2 linked regions of the Homo sapiens genome follow. The protein of the gene in region 1 binds, or shares a complex with, the protein of each later gene. Each region holds a gene or a part of one and is shown on either strand. Other genes may lie near its edges. The genes, in order: THOC7 and THOC2.

Evidence for each region.
Region 2: THOC7 (region 1) and THOC2 share a complex: the UniProt entries of both Homo sapiens proteins name them as parts of the transcription/export (TREX) complex.

Annotation. Positions count from the first base shown.
Region 1 is NC_000003.12:63,859,790-63,869,148, forward strand, and holds the start of THOC7 (THO complex subunit 7), read right to left. Parts: upstream 4,017-9,359; 5' UTR 4,002-4,016; coding exon 3,983-4,001; exon of another isoform or gene 3,715-3,982; intron 3,407-3,714; exon of another isoform or gene 3,355-3,406; intron 2,031-3,354; exon of another isoform or gene 1,710-2,030; intron 1,208-1,709; exon of another isoform or gene 856-1,207; intron 1-855. UniProt on the Homo sapiens protein: Component of the THO subcomplex of the TREX complex which is thought to couple mRNA transcription, processing and nuclear export, and which specifically associates with spliced mRNA and not with unspliced pre-mRNA.
Region 2 is NC_000023.11:123,722,482-123,731,186, forward strand, and holds part of THOC2 (THO complex subunit 2), read right to left. Parts: intron 1-8,705. UniProt on the Homo sapiens protein: Component of the THO subcomplex of the TREX complex which is thought to couple mRNA transcription, processing and nuclear export, and which specifically associates with spliced mRNA and not with unspliced pre-mRNA.

The sequences.
Region 1 (9,359 bases):
CATTTCAGCTTGATTTTTTCAAAAGCTCAGCTGACAAAAACCATGTTTATAGAGGATTGTCTGAAGAAGTTGTAGTTTGTCTTTCCTCTATGGTCTAGATATTCAATCAAAAAACCCTGATTTGAATCAAGCCAGATCAGCAGAGCTACCCACTACCCACCTAAACCACATTGTCCATTGATTTTATTTATTTATTTTTAGACAGGGTCTAGCACTGTTGACAGGCTGGAGTGCAGTGGTGCAATCATGGCTCGTTGCAACCTCAAACTCCTGGGCTCAAGTGATCCTCCTGCCTCAGCCTCCTGAGTAGCTGGGACTACCTACAGGTGTGTTCCACTCCACCTGGCTAATTTAAGAAAATTTTTAGTAGAGATGAGTAGCTGAGACTACAGGTGCACACCACCACACACGCCTGGCTAATTTGAAAAATTCTGTAGTATAGATCATGTCTTGCTGTGTTGCTTAGGATGGTCGCAAACTCCTGGGCTCACGTGATCCTCCTGCCTTAGCATCCCAAAGTGCTAAGATTGATTACAGGTGTGAGCTACCACACCCAGCCTCTACTGGCTTTAGAATGTCTTTCTAAATTGTGATTTAGCCTTCTTTTACCTAGCAAGGGATGTGCTACAAAACAGCTCTATGATCTTCAGTGCTGAAAAGAGGTTAAGGATATGACACTGGCTTTCATTTATAAAGACCTCAATGATAAACTTTTCCTCTAGTTCAAATCAGAAAAAAAAAGTGCTTTTCCTGGGCATCTAAGATTGCCTTCTCTCATGAACACTAGATCACAGAGCAGACGAGGTCCTGCCTCTCAGAATGGCCTACTGGAGAAACAGGTCACTTACAGCTTGGTTAATTAATGTACTAGACTTTATCCTCCTGCATTTTGAGGATCACCCCACTTCTGACTTCCCTTTATTTTTCCTAATCTCAATGTTCTTTTTGTCTTGTTTTCTAATCCGTTTAATTTTTATATTTTCTCATTACAGTGAACTGCCTTAAATGTTTTCTAGCATAAGGCATATAAATAACGTATTAAGGGTGACAGCAGCAATATGCATAAAATAATATGGCTAGTAGGCAGAAGGTCAACTACTTCTAGGAAAGAAAAGAGGGGATTTTTGAGGTGGGTCTTGAGGAATAAGTGGAGTGTCACCTGATAGAAAAGGCAGGAAAAGGCAACCTGTGCAGATTAAGAGAGAAGGCAAAGTCCACATCAAAGGAAAGTGGAAGACAGATTAGTAAAACAACTCTGACATTAATATTTACTGAATATTAATTATTATGTGTTGGACTCAATGCAAAGCCCTTTACAACTTTTTGTGTTTAATCCTCAAAACAATCCGCTGATGTGGATTTTATTATTATCTCCGTTCAGAGACTGAAGCTGAGACAGTCTGTAAGTGGCAGGGTAGAGATTCCTGTGGCTTTTAAGGATGTGGGGGGGCACTTGACTGCAGTCATTACTTTAGAACTCATCTTCTGTCCCTATCTCCCATCTGACAAAGCCTGTTGCTCCTTTGGACATCTCAATCTCAATAAATAGAAAAGTAGCACTAACAGGCACACAGTGAAGTCAAAAACCTGGGATCATCCTAAATCCCTTCTCCCACCATCCATTCAATACCTGAAGTCCTGACATTCTACCTCACAAATTTCCCTATTTCCCTCCCACCTGTCCTCTTTGCATTCCCTCTTGGTCACAGTCCTCATTGTCTCTCACCAGGGCCACTGCAGAAGTAGCAGACACAGGACGCATAATAGTGAAGAGCAGGAACTCGGCAGGTGGTCTCCCTGCCTTTGACCCTCTATAACTACTATCTGTGCGACCTTAGGCAAGCTAACCTGTGTCTGTTTCATCTGTAAAATGGGGATAACAATTAGAATAATACCTAACAGCACTACGTAAACGTTAGTAAGTGGCGAGGAAACTTAGCTCCTCATTTTCTCTTCCTCTAATCATTCTGCACATAACAGAGACAGTGTGTATGTGTGTGTGTGTTTTTTTTTTTTTTAATGAGACACGGTCTCACTCTGTCACCCAGACTGGAGTGCACTGGCGCGATCTTGGCTCACTGCAGCCTCAACCTCCCAGGCTCAAGTGATCCTTTCTCCTCAGACTCCCAAGTCCTGGGACTACAGGTGTGTGCCACTGTGCCAGACCAATTTTTTTGTATTTGTAGACATGGGGTCTCACTATGTTTTCCAGGCTGGTCTTGAACTTCTGAGCTCAAGAGGTCCGCCTGCCTTGGCCTCCCAAAGTGTTGGGATTACAGGCGTGAGCCACTGTGCCCGGCATGTGTGTGTGTTTTAATGCCAATCTGATTAACACCACACCAGTGTTAAAACTTTTAATGGATTCCTATTGCCCTTAGAGATCTCTGGCTCATAACTTTCTAAATTCTAGCAATACTTGTCAGCTTTGAGTTCTTCCAACATCTTGGGGTCTTTATACAAGTGGCTACCAACCCAGAACACCAGTCCAATATCTATTTATTCTTCAAAAATGGGATTAACTTCGAGGAGGCTTTCTCATTTCCATTGATTGGATAAATAATCTTTGTTACATGTTCCTACAGTTCCCAACCTTGTACTTCCTTGTGGTAATATTTGTCACTCTTAAAACTCATTAGTCAATGTTTCTTTCCCTTCAGACCAAAATTTTGGAGAGGGAAAAGTTCTTGCTTGTTAGTTCTGGGTTGTAATCCCAAAGCCTAGTCCAGGAAGGATAAATATCCACTAAATAAATGAAACTGGAATGAAGCAAAGCTGAAATTCCACATGAAGTTCCTGGGTCTTTAGTAGCCTCCCACCTCCACTACTCTTTATCAGTCTGGAAATTTGGGCCTATCACTGTTCTTCCCATGGCCAGGCCCTTTAATGTGGAGACCCTGGTGGTCTTCAACTCTTAAGAAGTGGCCTCTCCACAGGCATTTACAGTTACCGGTCACCATCTCCTGAAAAACACCCAAGAGCCCTAGATATCCCCTTCCCAGATATCAAAGGACCTCCTTCCTCCCTAACCAGATACCTTGTAGGTTCTCCCTCCAGTTGCCAATCATGCCCCTTCCCCCAAAGTGTCACCTTATTTCCGCTCTCAGTCCATAGACCATCTCCCTTAGACTGTCCACAAACCCAGCCTTTGCCCCTCTAAATTCATCCCAGCTGACAACCACCCTTCCTAACACACACACATACATCTTTTATCGTCCTGATCTACCCTAGACGGTCTCATCACTATACTGGCTCCTCCTTACCCCCGTAAATCTCCCAGGTACACTTCCTGATCACCCTCCGGATACCTCATCCCTATCTATTCCTTTTATAAATAATTCCCTGCTCCTCCTTCTCACCCACAATCCACTCGCAGTTCAAGGCCTCATTGCCATCGACTCCACTGTCTGTGAGTGCTTCCCAATATGCCCCAGGACCCCTCCTGGTGTCACGCTCTGTATCCTGACACCCCTTGTAGACGAGTCCCGAAATTCCCGCCCCGTCCCTGGAGCTCCCACTCCCTCCCAGACCTCCACAAACCTTCCAGGCCCCCAGCCCTAAGCCCGGCACCACTGTCCACCCTTCGCGGCTCCTGGGTCCTCACCGCGCCCCTAGACAAACCCGGACTCCCTCTGGTCCCACCCGCCCTTGCACCGCTTCTAGCCGTCTCGGCCACCCACGTGTGTTCCCAGCCCACCGACCACGCTCCCGGCACACCCTATAGCCCCGCGCTGCCTCCGGGAGAGCGGACGGGGAAAGCCGAGGGTCTCCGAGGGGCGCTCGGGCTCTGGCGAGAGGAGGAAGGACTCAGGGAAGCAGCCGGGGAGGCCCGGGGCTCCGGGGAGAGGTCGGGAAGGCCGAAGCGCTCTGGCGAAGAGGCCGGGGAGGCCGAGGGGTTCCCGGAAGCGGGCCGGGAGGCCAGGGGTCTCAGGGGAGGCCCAGCGGGCCGTGCAGCGGGCGCGTGTGGCGGCGAGCGGGGCCTCACCGTCAGTCACGGCTCCCATGGCGTGCGCGGCGGCGGCGGCGGCGGCGGCGGCGCAAGCTGAGGCGGCGGTTGGCGGCGGCGGAGGTCAAACTCCCACAATGCAGCCGGGTAAACAGCCATGGAGGAGGAGGCGGCGGCGCCCGCGGCCGCCTGCTCCGACGCCTGAGCCGCGCCGCGCCGCGCCGCCGCCGCCGCCGCCGCCGCCGCGGGACCCGCGCTCCCCGCGCTCCCGGTACTCCCCGGGGGCGGCCGCGGCCGGCGCGAGTTGGGGCGAGGCTTGGCGGCCGGCGGCGGCCCCGGCTGCAGCCCGGGCTCCCGCCGCCCCCCTTGCAGCCCCCGCCCGGCCCACGCCCAGAGGCCGCCCCGGAGGCCGCAGCCAGCCGCCAGGTGAGCTCGCCCGGACGCCGCCAGGGCTGCGGGGGTGCGGCGGGAGCTGCGGGCCGCCCGCAGTCGGGGTCCCGGCTTCTTCCCCGGGAAGGTGACTGCGGCCCCGCCGCCCCATCCAGGGTGACGCTGCTAGGGGTGGGCTCGTTTCCCTGGGGGGTGGGGAGGGTGACGGGGACGCCCGGATCCGGCTGAGCCCAGGAGAGGCGGGACTAGGGGTACCGAGGGGGGCGCGTCGCTGGGGGTCCCCGCGAAGTTGGCGCCCACGCGCGCTGGGGCGGGTCTCGAACGCCGGCACTTGCGCGGGGCGCGGCCGGCAATCAAAAAAGGCCCCGGGTTCCAGGTCGCGCGGTTCCGGCCCCTGCGGCCGCCCCCTTCCTTCCTGGGCTCGGCGGGTGCGGGAAAAAGGGTGAAAGAGAAACTTGGCGACCTCCCGGAGGAGTTCGCGAAGCGACCAGGAGCGTGTTGCCATCGTCCTCACCCGGCACCCAATTCCACCACAGAGTCGGGATTTCGTCGGTGATCGTGATGGGGTGCTTTTATTTTTCTCTTTGATTTTCAAAAAATGTCTATGTGACTGTCCCTATCTTAAGGGGAAGTTGAAAGTGGGGGCGGGGGTGCTCAATGAGAAACGTTGCCTTGTGTGTAGTTGTTTGGAGCACACTGCAAATTATATTGGCATCTCTTTCCAAAAGTCACTTTGATTCAACTTCGATAGCTTTCTCGTAAATGGCACGTTTAGGTGGTGAGAGGTGGATGAGGAAACAGGCACCAGTGCAGCTGATTTGACCTCCAGTGGGATAGATACGATTAGCACCAGGATCGTGTCTCATTTTGAACCCAGGTTTGTTATTTTATTCAGCCATACCGTTGTTTTCCAATTTTCCTGTCCCCCAAGTAGATCTTGCATCTTCATATCCGGGATGAAGAAGTTGTGTAGGATAAACTTGGTTGTTTCACTTTCCTTACTAAATTTAGGTACATTCTCCCTGTTTTCCCCCAGTTCTTTCAAAGAGGAGAAGTTGCAGATGCAAATGTATTAAAGTGAAGTGTGTTTAACCTCTAGCAAGAAATATGTACAATTTTAGTCATATTATGTGAGACCAGTGACTTCAATAATACCATTACAGTGCTCTCAAGAATTAGTGCTCAAGAACTTGACTTTTGTCACAAAGACAAAAATTACTTTACATGAAGATTCTGAGATGTGACTTGCTCTCCCCTAAGGTATGAAGTTTCCGACTTTGAAAAAATACTGACCTAAACGCTGGCTGTAGGTGGGCATCATCAGACCCTGTTCATTTCCTTGGTTTTAGGAGACAGGGCACTCTAAGAGAAGAATTGTTTTAAATCTTAAGTACTACAGATTGTAAACTGAAATTGTCAATTGATTGGGGTTCACAATACCAAGTTGCATTTTGGTGGGGATAGTTATTGTTTAGAAAGTAATTGTCGGCCGGGCGCGGTGGCTCACGCCTGTAATCCCAGCACTTTGGGAGGCCGAGGCGGGAGGATCACGAGGTCAAGAGATCGAGACCATCCCGGCTAAAACGGTGAAACCCCGTCTCTACTAAAAAAAAATACAAAAAATTAGCCGGGCGTAGTGGCGGGCGCCTGTAGTCCCAGCTACTTGGGAGGCTGAGGCAGGAGAATGGCGTGAACCCGGGAGGCGGAGCTTGCAGTGAGCCCAGATCCCGCCACTGCACTCCAGCCTGGGCGACAGAGCGAGACTCCATCTCAAAAAAAAAAAAAAAAAAAAAAAAAAAAAAAGAAAGTAATTGTCATGTGGTGAAAAGTTTTTTTTAAGTGTTTCTTAATCTTATCATAATACTGATTTTGAAACAGTGTCAGTGATTTAAAATAATCTGTAATATTTTCATGGGAAAGTATCACTGCCCCCTGTAACTTAAATTTTCGTGAGATACTCTCTGAGTTATTCATAAATGGAGTGCTGTTCAAACATTTCTATAAGTTAATTTGATAACCTATAATTTTGTTGGATGATGCTAGAAATTTTCTGGAGTAATAAGACCAAGAGGAATTTGAAAGACTTTAAAGTTTGAGCTGTACCTGAAAATAAACATTCCTGAAAGTTATTTTATTTTTTTTTGAGACAGGACCTTCCTCTGTTGCCTAGGCTGGAGTGCAGTGGCACGATCATCAGGGCTCACTGCAGCCTGGAACTCCTGGGCTCAAGTGATCCTCCCATCTCAGCCTACCAACTAGTTGGGACTACCGGCATGTTCCATGATGCCTGGCTAAGTTTTTTATTTTTATTTTTGTAGAGACATGATCTCACTATGTTGCCCAGGCTGGTCTCAAACTGCTGGGCTCAAGCGATCCTCCCGCCTCAGCCTCCCAAAGTGCTGGGATTATGGGTTTGAGCCACTGTGTCCAGCCTGAAAGTTCTTGACTCAAGTGGTGGGAAACACATAATTTGAGCCTTTATGAACTCTAAAATCTATTTTGTCAGCTACATGATTTTACTTGCAATTGCATTGACACAGATCTATTCATTGAACATTTAAGAATTGTCTTTTCATCATATCGTATATCTCATATATATGAGAGAACATCTTTTAGTAAACTTTACAAGTGGTCTTCTTTTTACATATTAACATGTTGATGAATGTTAAAGTAGCAAAGACTCAAGCCCTTACCATACTAATGTTTCTTCTTTTCAAGACAGATCTTTATGGGCAGAAACACAGAAATGGAAGTAGCAGATTTTAAGAAAACTGATTCAGACTTTGAACTTGTATGACCTTATATTTATTGATTTATTTGAGTCATAAGATTTCTGGGTTTTTTTTTTTTTGAGAATATGAAAGACTAGTTAAGAAAATTTGTGTGTTTATTTGATATTTGCTTTCTGAAAATATAAAAAATTATGAGAGAGCTAGCTATATATGGTCTTTATTCTGGGTCTGTGAAATAATGTAAGGAATTTTGTACTATGCTTTTAGAGCAAGAGTTATCCTGGGGGTCTGTGACCCTCCAAGGGTTGGTTTCAAGGGATTCCTGAACTCCCTGTAGTTGTGACCAGAACTTTTTGTGTATGTGTATTTTTCTGGAAGAGGGTCTGTAGTTGTTTTAGAAAAGAGATCCAGGACTTAAAAAAATTAGAGACACATCTTTTTATTGAATAAAATGGAAGTTAGAATTCTTTTCTTTTCTTTCTTCTTTTTTCCTTTTTCTTTTGAAACAGGGTCTCACTTTGTTGCCCAGTCTGGAATGCAATTGCATGAAACTGGCTCACTGCATCCTTGACCTCCTGGGCTCAAGTGATCCTCCTGCCACAGCCTCCCAGAGTGCTGGGATTACAGTCATGAGCCATCACAGAATGACCATTCTAAAGAGAAAAAAACATTTTTGAAAAGTAGATCTGTGTGCTCGTTACTTGCCTTTTAAAGTTATCTTCAGGCTGGGCACAGTGGCTTATGCCTGTAATCCCAGCACTTTGAGAGGCCAAGGCGGGTGGATCATTTGAGGTAGGCCGAGGCGGGTGGATCATTTGAGGTCAGAAATTCAAGAGCAGCCTGGCCAACATGGTGAAACCCCATCTCTACCAAAAATACAAAAAAAATTATCTAGGCGTGGTGGTGTGGCCTGTAATCCCAGCTACTCAGGAGGCTGAGGCAGGAGAATCACTTGAACCCAGGAGGCTGAGGTTGCAGTGAGCCGAGATCACTACACTCTAGCCTGGGCAACAGAGTAAGACACTGAAATAAATAAATAAATAACAAACAAATAAATAAATAAAGTTGTCTTCAGACTTAGAGGTGTAAAAGCACTTCCATTTTATTCCCACAACAAAGCATTGCCTATCAGTTGATAAGCCAAGCTGGTCTGACGTGCTAGTCCTGCATGTACTGTGGCTGTGTTTTTAAAAAATTATATCTAAAAATTCAGACCAGATCGTTTGATGGTAGATAAGCAAAGATTTGATCTTGACACCAGCCGTTGGAGTAAATGGGTCTTTCAGCTCCACTCTCTTCTCTCCAGAAAATTTGAAATTTGACTCAAAGGGAATCATTGTAAGAAAATGTGTTTGTGCCTTGGCAGGACAGTAGAACATGATGGGAAAAACACAGTTTGAGTCAAAATAGACTTAAAATTCAAATTTGGTTTCCTTTATTCACTGTAGCTACTTACCCTGCTTGACTCTTCAGTTACTCATCTGGATATGGCTAACTAGTAGAGTTGTTGGGAGGCTAGCTAGAAGTTTCCCGTATAAAAGTCTTAGCTCCTCTTTGGCCCGCAAGAAGGACTTACAAGCCAGGTTTGGGGAACCATTAATAAACATCTGAGGAAACATGTATATTCATGGTATAGGATAATAAGTACATTATTTCCAAATTGGTGTGATGAAGATATTAACACTTAAAACATTGTTTTTTAAGAAAAAGATTTTCAAAAATGAGTTAGGATTGAGTGGTCCCCAAATATAGATATTTAGAGGAAAGTGGAAAATGATGGTTTATTTGGCAGAGGGGAGGACATGGATGCTGCTGGGCAGGAAGAAATGATAGCCACCCACCAGCATTATATTTCTCTCTGTGGGCAAGATTCCATTTAACATTTTCTCTTCACTTATAATCTGAATTAAAAAACTAAAATACTGCACATGTACTTTATAGTCCATCACCCCTAAAAGTGCTTCAGCACTCCTTTCGTTTTGAGACCTTCACAGGTAACCCAGGGACTTCATGGGTGGAAGTTACACTTATAACTTTAGTTGTCTAATTCTGCTGTCTTTAAAATGCCTTCACAGTTGGGTACCTGTGTTGATTTTTGTCAATAGGAAAGGGTCTGGCAGGACTGAATCATATTTTACTTTAAATGCTGAAGTAAGAGAGGGCATTATGAGTCAAAAGAAAGTGTGAGATACGTAAATAAAATACTGTATAATGCTTATGGCCATAAAAATAAACTTGCTTCTACTATTTCTATAGTCTTAACCTTTCCTGTCATTTATTCGTGGTGATCATTT
Region 2 (8,705 bases), on another chromosome or scaffold:
ACCACATGTTCTCACTCATAAGTGAGAGCTGAACAATGAGAACACATGGACACAGGGACAGGAACATCACACACTGGTGCCTGTTGGGGGTTGGGGAGCAAGGGGAGGGAGAGCATTAGGACACATACCTAATGCACGTGGGGCTTAAAACTTAGATGACAGGTTGATAGGTGCAGCAAACCACCATGGCAAATGTATGCCTATGTAACAAACCTGCACATTCTGCACATGTATCCCAGAACTTAAAATTAAAAAAAAATGACAGTTGTAACACATGCAGTGTAACCCAAAAAGGGCTCAAATACAGACTATATAAAGAACCCCTACAAATCAGTGAAAGAAACTCAAGCAACTCAATAACAAAAAAGGCAAAAGATATGACAGAGACCTTTCACAAAAAGAAATAAGAACTCCAGTACAGGCGTGGTGGCTCACGTCTGTAATCCCAGCACTTTGGGAGGCCAAGGCGGGCGGATCATCGGAGGTCCGGAGTTCAAGACCAGCCTGCCCAACATGGTGAAACCCTGTCTCTACTAAAAACACAAAAATTAGCCAGGTGTGGTGGCACACACCTGTAATCCCAGCTACTCAGGAGGCTGAGGCACAAGAATCGCTTGAACTCGGGAGGCAGAGGTTGCAGTGAGCCAAGATCACGCCACCACCGCACTCCAAACTAGGCGACAGAGCAAGACTCTGTCTCAAACAAACAAAAAAAAAGAAGTACTCCAAATGACCAATAACATATAAAAAGATGCTCATGGAAATATAAGCCACAGTAAAATTACATACATATTTACAAAAAATTTAAGTCTGACAATATCAAACATAGTGACAATGTGAAACAAGGTCAACTCATACACTGCTGGTGGGAGTGTACACTGAAATAGCCTGGCAATATCTAACAGAGCTAAAGTGTAACCTATAACCCAGAGATTCTACACCTAGTATATACTCCACAAAAACACATGCTTGTATACACCAAAACTGTTGTATAATAATGTTTCTATTGGCACTGTTAGTAATAGCCAAAAACTAGACGCAACAAAAATGTTTAACAAGACAGCATAAAAATAAACAAATACTGGTATACGATGGAGTATCTTGCAACTATGAAAATGAATGAACTAAAAAAAAAAGGAAAATCAATGAACTGCAAACATACAATATGGATGAATCTTAAAAGTCATAACTGTTGAACAAAAGCAGCCAGAAACAGTAGGATAAATATTCAATGATTTCATTTATATGAAGTTCAAGAAAAAAATTAAACATATTGGGTAATGACACTGCAAAGAAAATCAAGAAAGTTTCTTTGAGTTGAAGATGCAAGGTTAAAAAAAGAGAAAAATCAAGAGGAAAACCATAAATGTCAGGATAATGTTTACTACATGAGAGGTGGGAAAGGTTTGATCGGGAACAAACAGTATGTTGCCTTGACCTGGGTGTAAGTTACATGGGGGTGCATCTTACAGTGATTATTTTAAGCTCTATATTGAGGTTTCATGACTTCTCTGTATTTTCATTACATTTCACAATTTAGAAAAAAATTCTTCCATGTTGCACAAGGCTTTAAAGAGAGCCAATGAATTCATATAGAAGAGTTTCTTACTCTTTTATATCTAGTAATCCTTTTTCTAGTCAATGAAACAAATAATTTTAAGACTTACAGAACCTGCTTATATATCACATCTAAGGCTAAATAAGATGCCAGATTACAATCATCCACAGAGAGATTATCTACTTTGCAGATTATACATAACCTTGCAGCTCACCTCTGTGCCTTCTGATTATGTCAATACCCTATCATCAGGATGAGCAGGGTAAGGTTATTAAAAGTCAACAGAGTAAACTTTTGCTGGTCAACAATTCACTTCTAGGTTTCACAAATATGTTCAAAACCAAAAAATAAAAAGGCAATGGAAGCCGGGCACTGTAGCTCACACCTGTAGTCCCAGAACTCTGGGAGGCTAAGGTGGGTGGATCAGTTGAGGTCAAGAGTTTGAGACCAGCCTGGCCAACATGATGAAACCTCGTCTCCACTAAAAATACAAAAATTAGCTGGACGCAGTGGTGCGCACCTGTAATCCCAGCTACTCTACAGGCTGAGGCAGGAGAATCGCATGAACCCAGGAGGCAGAGGTTGCAGTGAGCCAAGACTGCATCACCGCACTCCAACCTGGGCAACAGAGCGAGACTCTGTCTCAGAAAAAATAAAAATAAAAAATAAGGGCAATGGAGAGCATCTACTAAATTAAATATTTAGTTTGAAAATGTCAGGCCAGGCATAGTAGCTCACGTCTGTAATCCCAGCACTTTGGGAGGCCAAGGTGGGTGAATCACTTGAGCTCAGGAGTTCGAGACCAGCCTGGTAATATCACCTGAGCTCAGGAGTTCAAGACCAGCCTCGTAACGTGGTGAAACCCTGTCTCTACCAAAAACACAAACAATTAGCAGAGCATGGTAGCACGCGCCTGTGGGCCCAGCTACTCAGGAGGCTGAGGTGGGAGGATCGCCAGAGCCCAGGAAGTTGAGACTGCAGTGAGCCAAGATCACACCAGTGAGCCATGATCGCACCACTGCACTCCAGCCTGCACTCCAGGGTGACAGAGCAAGATCCCATCTCAAAAACAAAAACAAAGAAAGAAAATGTCATTTAGCTATTAAACATTTCTCACTAAAAAAATTATTCTGAGAGTACCTTACAAATGGTAAGCTGGTTTAAGTTTGATCCCAAGTACTTTCAACTACTTCCCTGGAGAACTAGACAGGCCTTCTAATGGGTTGAGAAGAGAACAGTGGTTGGTTAAGAACACTGGTTAAAGTTGGATATGCTGGCTCATGCCTGTAATCCCAACACTTTGGGAGGCCGAAGTGGGAGGATCACTTGAGCACAGGAGTACAAGACCAGCCTAGCCAGCCTAGCCAACAAGTGAGACCCCATCTCTACAAAAAAAAAAAAAAAATAGAAAAAAAAAGTAGCCAAGTGTGGTGGCACATGCCTATAATCCCAGCTACTTGGGAGGTTGAGCTGGGAGGATCACTTGAGCCTGCAGGTCGAGGCTGCAGTGAGTGGTGATCGTAGTACCACTGCACTCCAGCCTGGGCAGCCTGGGGAACAGAGTGAGACCCTATCTCAAAAAAAAAAAAAAAAAAAAAACCACGATTAAGCTTCTAATTTCACAAAATACGTTAAACCTAACATAAGTTTATCTGGAATATAAAACAAAATCAATCTTCCTTCCACCAGGCAACACAGAAATAACATCTGCTTCAGACTAGCATCAGAAGATATAACCTAAAAATGCCATCTAGGTCTTTTGTGGAGAGGAGATATATAAGTATATCAAGGTTGCTTCAATATTTACTATGAAGTATTAAAACAATTCCCTCTTTGGGTTCTCATTTCCCTTATAGGGTCAATTCTCTTTAGAATATAATAGCAGGGGCCAGGCACCGTGGCTCACACCTATAATCCCAGCACTTTTAAGAGGCCGAGGAGGGCAGATTACTTGAGGTCAAGAGTTTGAGACTAGCCTAGCCAATATGGTGAAACCCCGTCTCTACTAAAACTACAAAAATTAGCCGGGCTTGGTGGCCAATGCCTGTAATCCCAGCTACTCAGGAAGCTGAGGCAGGAGAATCACCTGAACCCAGGAAGCGGAGGTTGTAGTGGGTCGAGATCGCACCACTGCACTCCAGCCTGGGCGACAGAGTGAGACTCTGTCTCAAAAAAAATAATAATAATAATAGCAGGAAGCACCATGTCTTTGAAAGAAGAATTTAACAGAATAAAGTAACTCATCTTTCCCTTTGTACTCGGGCTACTAAAATGCAATTTCAAATATTCCTTCATATAGAAAAAGAGAAAAAAGAAAAAGAGGAAAGGAAAAGGAAAGGATGAGAAAGAAAGAGAAATAAAATAATTGTTTAAAATTCCTCCTTATTCACTTGAGCCCAGGAGGTCAAGGCTGCAGTGAGCCAAGATCGTGCCACTGCACTCCAGCCTGGGCAACAGAGTGAGACCCTGTCTCAAAAAAAAAAAAAAAAAACTTCTCCTTATAACAATGCACTTGCTTCCTCACATTTTCAATAGTTTCATTTCTATTTAACAATCTTAATGCATGTCTTTTGCAAAAAGCCTTCCAATGGTTGCGGGGAAGAGGTTGCATCAGTGTTGCAAACTCCTACCTAGACTAATGGTACAGTCATCATTACATAACTTTAAGAAATAATTGAAATATAATTCTATATTGTCAGTCACCAGGCTACAAACATGTTCATTAGGACACAGATGACAATGTCATCATGAACTATTAGTTAGAATCTCAAAGATTTGCTCAAGTTGCATATGGAACCATTGAAAGGTTATTACAATAAGGCAATTTGTTTGCATAATAGATACTTACATTTCCCTAGTATAAAAGAGGTATTCCTTTGGCTGGGCGTAGTGGCTCATGCCTGTAATCCCAGCACTTTGGGAGGCTGAGGGGGGAGGATCACTTGAAGCCAGGAGTTTATGACCAGCCTGGGCAATATAGCAAAACCCCATCCCTACTCATACACCCGCACAAAAAAATGTTTTTAATTAGCCAGGCATGGTGGCATGCACCTGTAGCCCTAGCAATTCAGGAGGCTGAGGCAGGAAAATCCCTTGAGCCTGGTGGGGTCAAGCCTGCAGTGAGCCGTGATCGCCTGCACTCCAGCCTAGGTGACAAAGCAAGACCCTGTCTCAAAAAAAACTTAGTTAAAAATAAATTTTTTAATAAAAAAAAAACAGGTATTCCTTAGTTATAACAAGAAACTAAAAACAAACACTGAGATTTTTCCCCAACAAGTAGATGTATCTGTGCTCTTCTCCCTAAGTAATTCACTAATAGAAGTCCACCAAGGATTCTTAAAGAAACTGTTTCTGAACATTACATTTGTCTTACTATACACCTGCCTAATGGTTTTAGGTCACTAACCTAAATTATAGGGAGAGGAAAAAACAAAACTACCTCTAATAGTTGCCCACTTTAATATCGCTTAAAAATAATCAAATTTTCTGTCTCAGTCCAAATTGAAATTATTTTAATCCCTTAATAACTTTCAAATACTTGAGTTTACCATTTTTCCACTTTTTAATTTAATTTTTTAAAAATAAAAATAGAGATAGGTTCTCGCTATGTCGCCCAGAGCTCTCCTGGGCTCAGGCAATCCTTCCTCCTGCCTCAGTTGCCCAAGTAGCTGGGATTACAGGTGTGTGCCACAGTGCACACCACCTTACATGCCACCACGCCAGGCATTCATTTTTTCTACTTTTAAAATAGTTTAGTGCTATTATGGAGATGCTGTCTCAGGTCCCTGAGAATGAGGACAGAATCTACTTTCTGTCAAAAGATGTATGGAAAACTGAATAAAATGTCTGAAGTTCCTTCAAGGACTTAAAAGGTATTTTGTGAATACTTCTTAACATGAGTATACGGCTTTTCATCTTACTTGTTCCCATTTTCCAGTAAAAAGGAAACAGAGTCACAAGCTTAAACTACTTGATTATGCTCACATCTCAAATGTGGCTTTCATATATAGAAGGCTGATGTTCATTTACGCTTCACTTAATTCTTTAAAACAAGACAACAAAAAGGTTAAATGTAGTTAAATAAAGTGCTACCTCTATTATCATTTGTAGAACAGAAACATAACCCACAAAAATGAATACTGGGACAACACAGTTTTATCTTGTAGAAACATGCATTTAAAAGAAAAGGAAACAGGAAATGTTAAAAAAAAAAAAGACAACAGGAGTTGCCGCACTTACAGTAGGAAAAAAGCACAAGTATATTGACAGCACTCACCCTACCTAAACGTTAGAGCATTACAGAATAATTTTTTTTAACAAACAAAGTAGTAGCCTATACAACCTCCTGACATTGCTTCAACATTTTGTGAAGAATGTTTCTCTTCCCAGGAAAACAGACTAAGACTTATACTTAGCTTATGAATACAGGTCGAAATGGGAAATTAAATGCTAAATGAAAACTGAGACATCAAGAAAAGGTTTCAGATAAAGCTTTGGCTGAATTTGGAGCAACTTTGCGAGGAAAAAAGACTCAACCACCAAGACTAAAATTTCTTAGAATGATTATATCCCTTTACCTGGAATCCTCCAAGAAATTCAGATCAGATGGCATGTTCTGAACAACCAAATATACTTAAATAAGTTCTAGAATGTCTAAAATCATGTAGTAGCAGAAGAAGAAAAAGAACAACAATCAAAACATTTGGCAATTAAATTTTAAAACTTTATTGTAACTACCATTAATAAGGTAAGACCTAACAAAACTTTCTAATTGATACCTAAATAAGCTATTCAAACAAACAGATGATATTCAACAAACGTAAGTATTTCAAAATTAGACTAAGTATTAACATGAGGCTAGCATCTTCAGATTAAGAGCTTCGAATATCAATTCTCCATTAAGGTTGCCTGTAACAAAGAAATGCTGAGTTCACTGTGTTAATGATTTCTACCAAAAACAGAATTCTACACTGGATCTACCAGTACATGCAAGTTTATTAGCTTCATCATGGCAAGTTCTACGTCAATATAAAATAATCAAGAAACTAAAACTAATTCCAAAATTAAGTGATTAAATACATATCTTTCAGAATTTGGAAGAGTTTGCATTTAGATATAAGTATTATTGGAAATTACAATTACATTTTGGTAGTCCTCCTTTGCCCTTCTGATCCCTCTTTAAGATCACTTTAAAGGTCACTCTTTAAGAGTTCTATAATTTAGCATTAAAAACATAATTGGTATCTCTGGAAACATAATGGGATATCTAGATATGTGATGGATGGACCATTCAGATAGGCAAAATACAGTTTTACTTTTCTCTCTAATTACCTAATAAAACATTCTTCAAAGTCAAGACCTTCCATTTAATAGACAGTTGTTTTTCATGGCGTACAGTTAAGAATTTGCCCTATCTGAAAGTTATAAAATGCCCCATACATCTCTTATGTTGCTTTCAACACTAGCTGACTACCACCCCCAGAAAAGATTTATGCTGGTAAGAAGTGACAGACAAGAAATGAATTAACAACCTCATGAAATATATCACATTATTTTTAAAAAGATAATTTTCAGTCAAGTTAAAGCTTATCTGCTAATTTATCTTGTTAAAAAGGAAAAATTCACCCAAGGTATAATTTTAAATATTGGTCATATTCTAAACGCCAAATCTATAGCTTCACTAATAATGTGGTGGCACACTACCTTCATTTTTAACATTTCCAGTTGCTGTTTTATATTTCAGAAGCTGTTTTCAGACAAAGGAAAAAGGTTTTTTGTAATATATTTGCACCACCACGTATTCTGCCTAGTAATATGAAAATGCTAACACCTATCTTTAGGAAGACACAAAAACTCCAAAGACATGCTATATGCAACAAAGTTTCATAGAGGGAAAACAGGTCAAATAAACTGAAACTAAGTACTGGATGGTGATGTGTTTAACTATTTAAAATAGCTTATTATGTTACACAATTTTAAATTCTCTTCCTGTAACAGAATGCAATCATAAAACTGACTATACTGATTTGGATCTACTATAATTCAATCCACATTCCACAAGTCATGCAATAACTACATACACGTAAGTTCTAATAACAGGTTTTTTTGCTGTTGTTTTTGGTTTGTTTTTGTTTGGGTTTTTGTTTTTTTTTTTTTTTTAAAGAGTTTCGCTCTTGTTACCCATGCTGGAGTGCAACAGCGCGATCTCCGCTCACCGCAACTTCCGCCTCCCAGATTCAAGCGATTCTCCCGCCTCAGCCTCCTGAGTAGCTGGGATTACAGGCATGTGCCACCACGCTCGGCAAATTTTGTACTTTTAGTAGAGATGGGGTTTCTCCATGTTGGTCAGGCTTGTCTGGAACTCCTGACCTCAGGTGATCCACCCGCCTCGGCCTCCCAATTTGCTGGGATTACAGGCGTGAGCCACCACGCTCGGCTTCTAATAACAGTTTTTAAGCAGCTCTTCAAACATAAGAACTATGACAGATAGCATGTATTATGTAAATATACATAATGTGAACCTAAAATTCCATTTTATCTAAGTATTTCGATCTCCTACATCACTTTTTCTCAAACCATTACCAGTCAGAAGCCAAGCAGAATTTCACCTTATAGCCCTAATACCACTCATGCTAAGGTGGCAGCAATAATAGTAAAACTGTTGGGAGGCCGAGGTGGGCGGATCACCAGGTCAGGAGATGGAGACCATCCTGGATAACACGGTGAAACTCCGTGTCTAGTAAAAATACAAAAAATTAGCCGGGCGTGGTAGCACGCGCCTGTAGTCCCAGCTACTCAGGAGGCTGAGACAGGAGAATCGCTTGAACGTGGGAGGCGGAGGTTACGGTGAGCCGAGATCGCGCCACTGCACTCCAGCCTGGGCGACAGAGCGAGACTCCGTCTCAAGGGGGAAAAAAAAAAGTAAAACTGTCAAAAAACAGTAGCTGAAAGGAGGAAGCTGAGCAATCTACAAACATAACAGCCCCTAAATAAATGAGCTGGCTTTGAAAGTAAACAAAACAATGAACTGCTTTTATCAGTTTTGGGGGATTACCCTAATATCGATGAAGATGATGGTCTGGCTGGGTAACTTCCCATCTTGCCTTCCCCAAACTTGATGGCTATTTGTCAACTAGCTATCAAACTT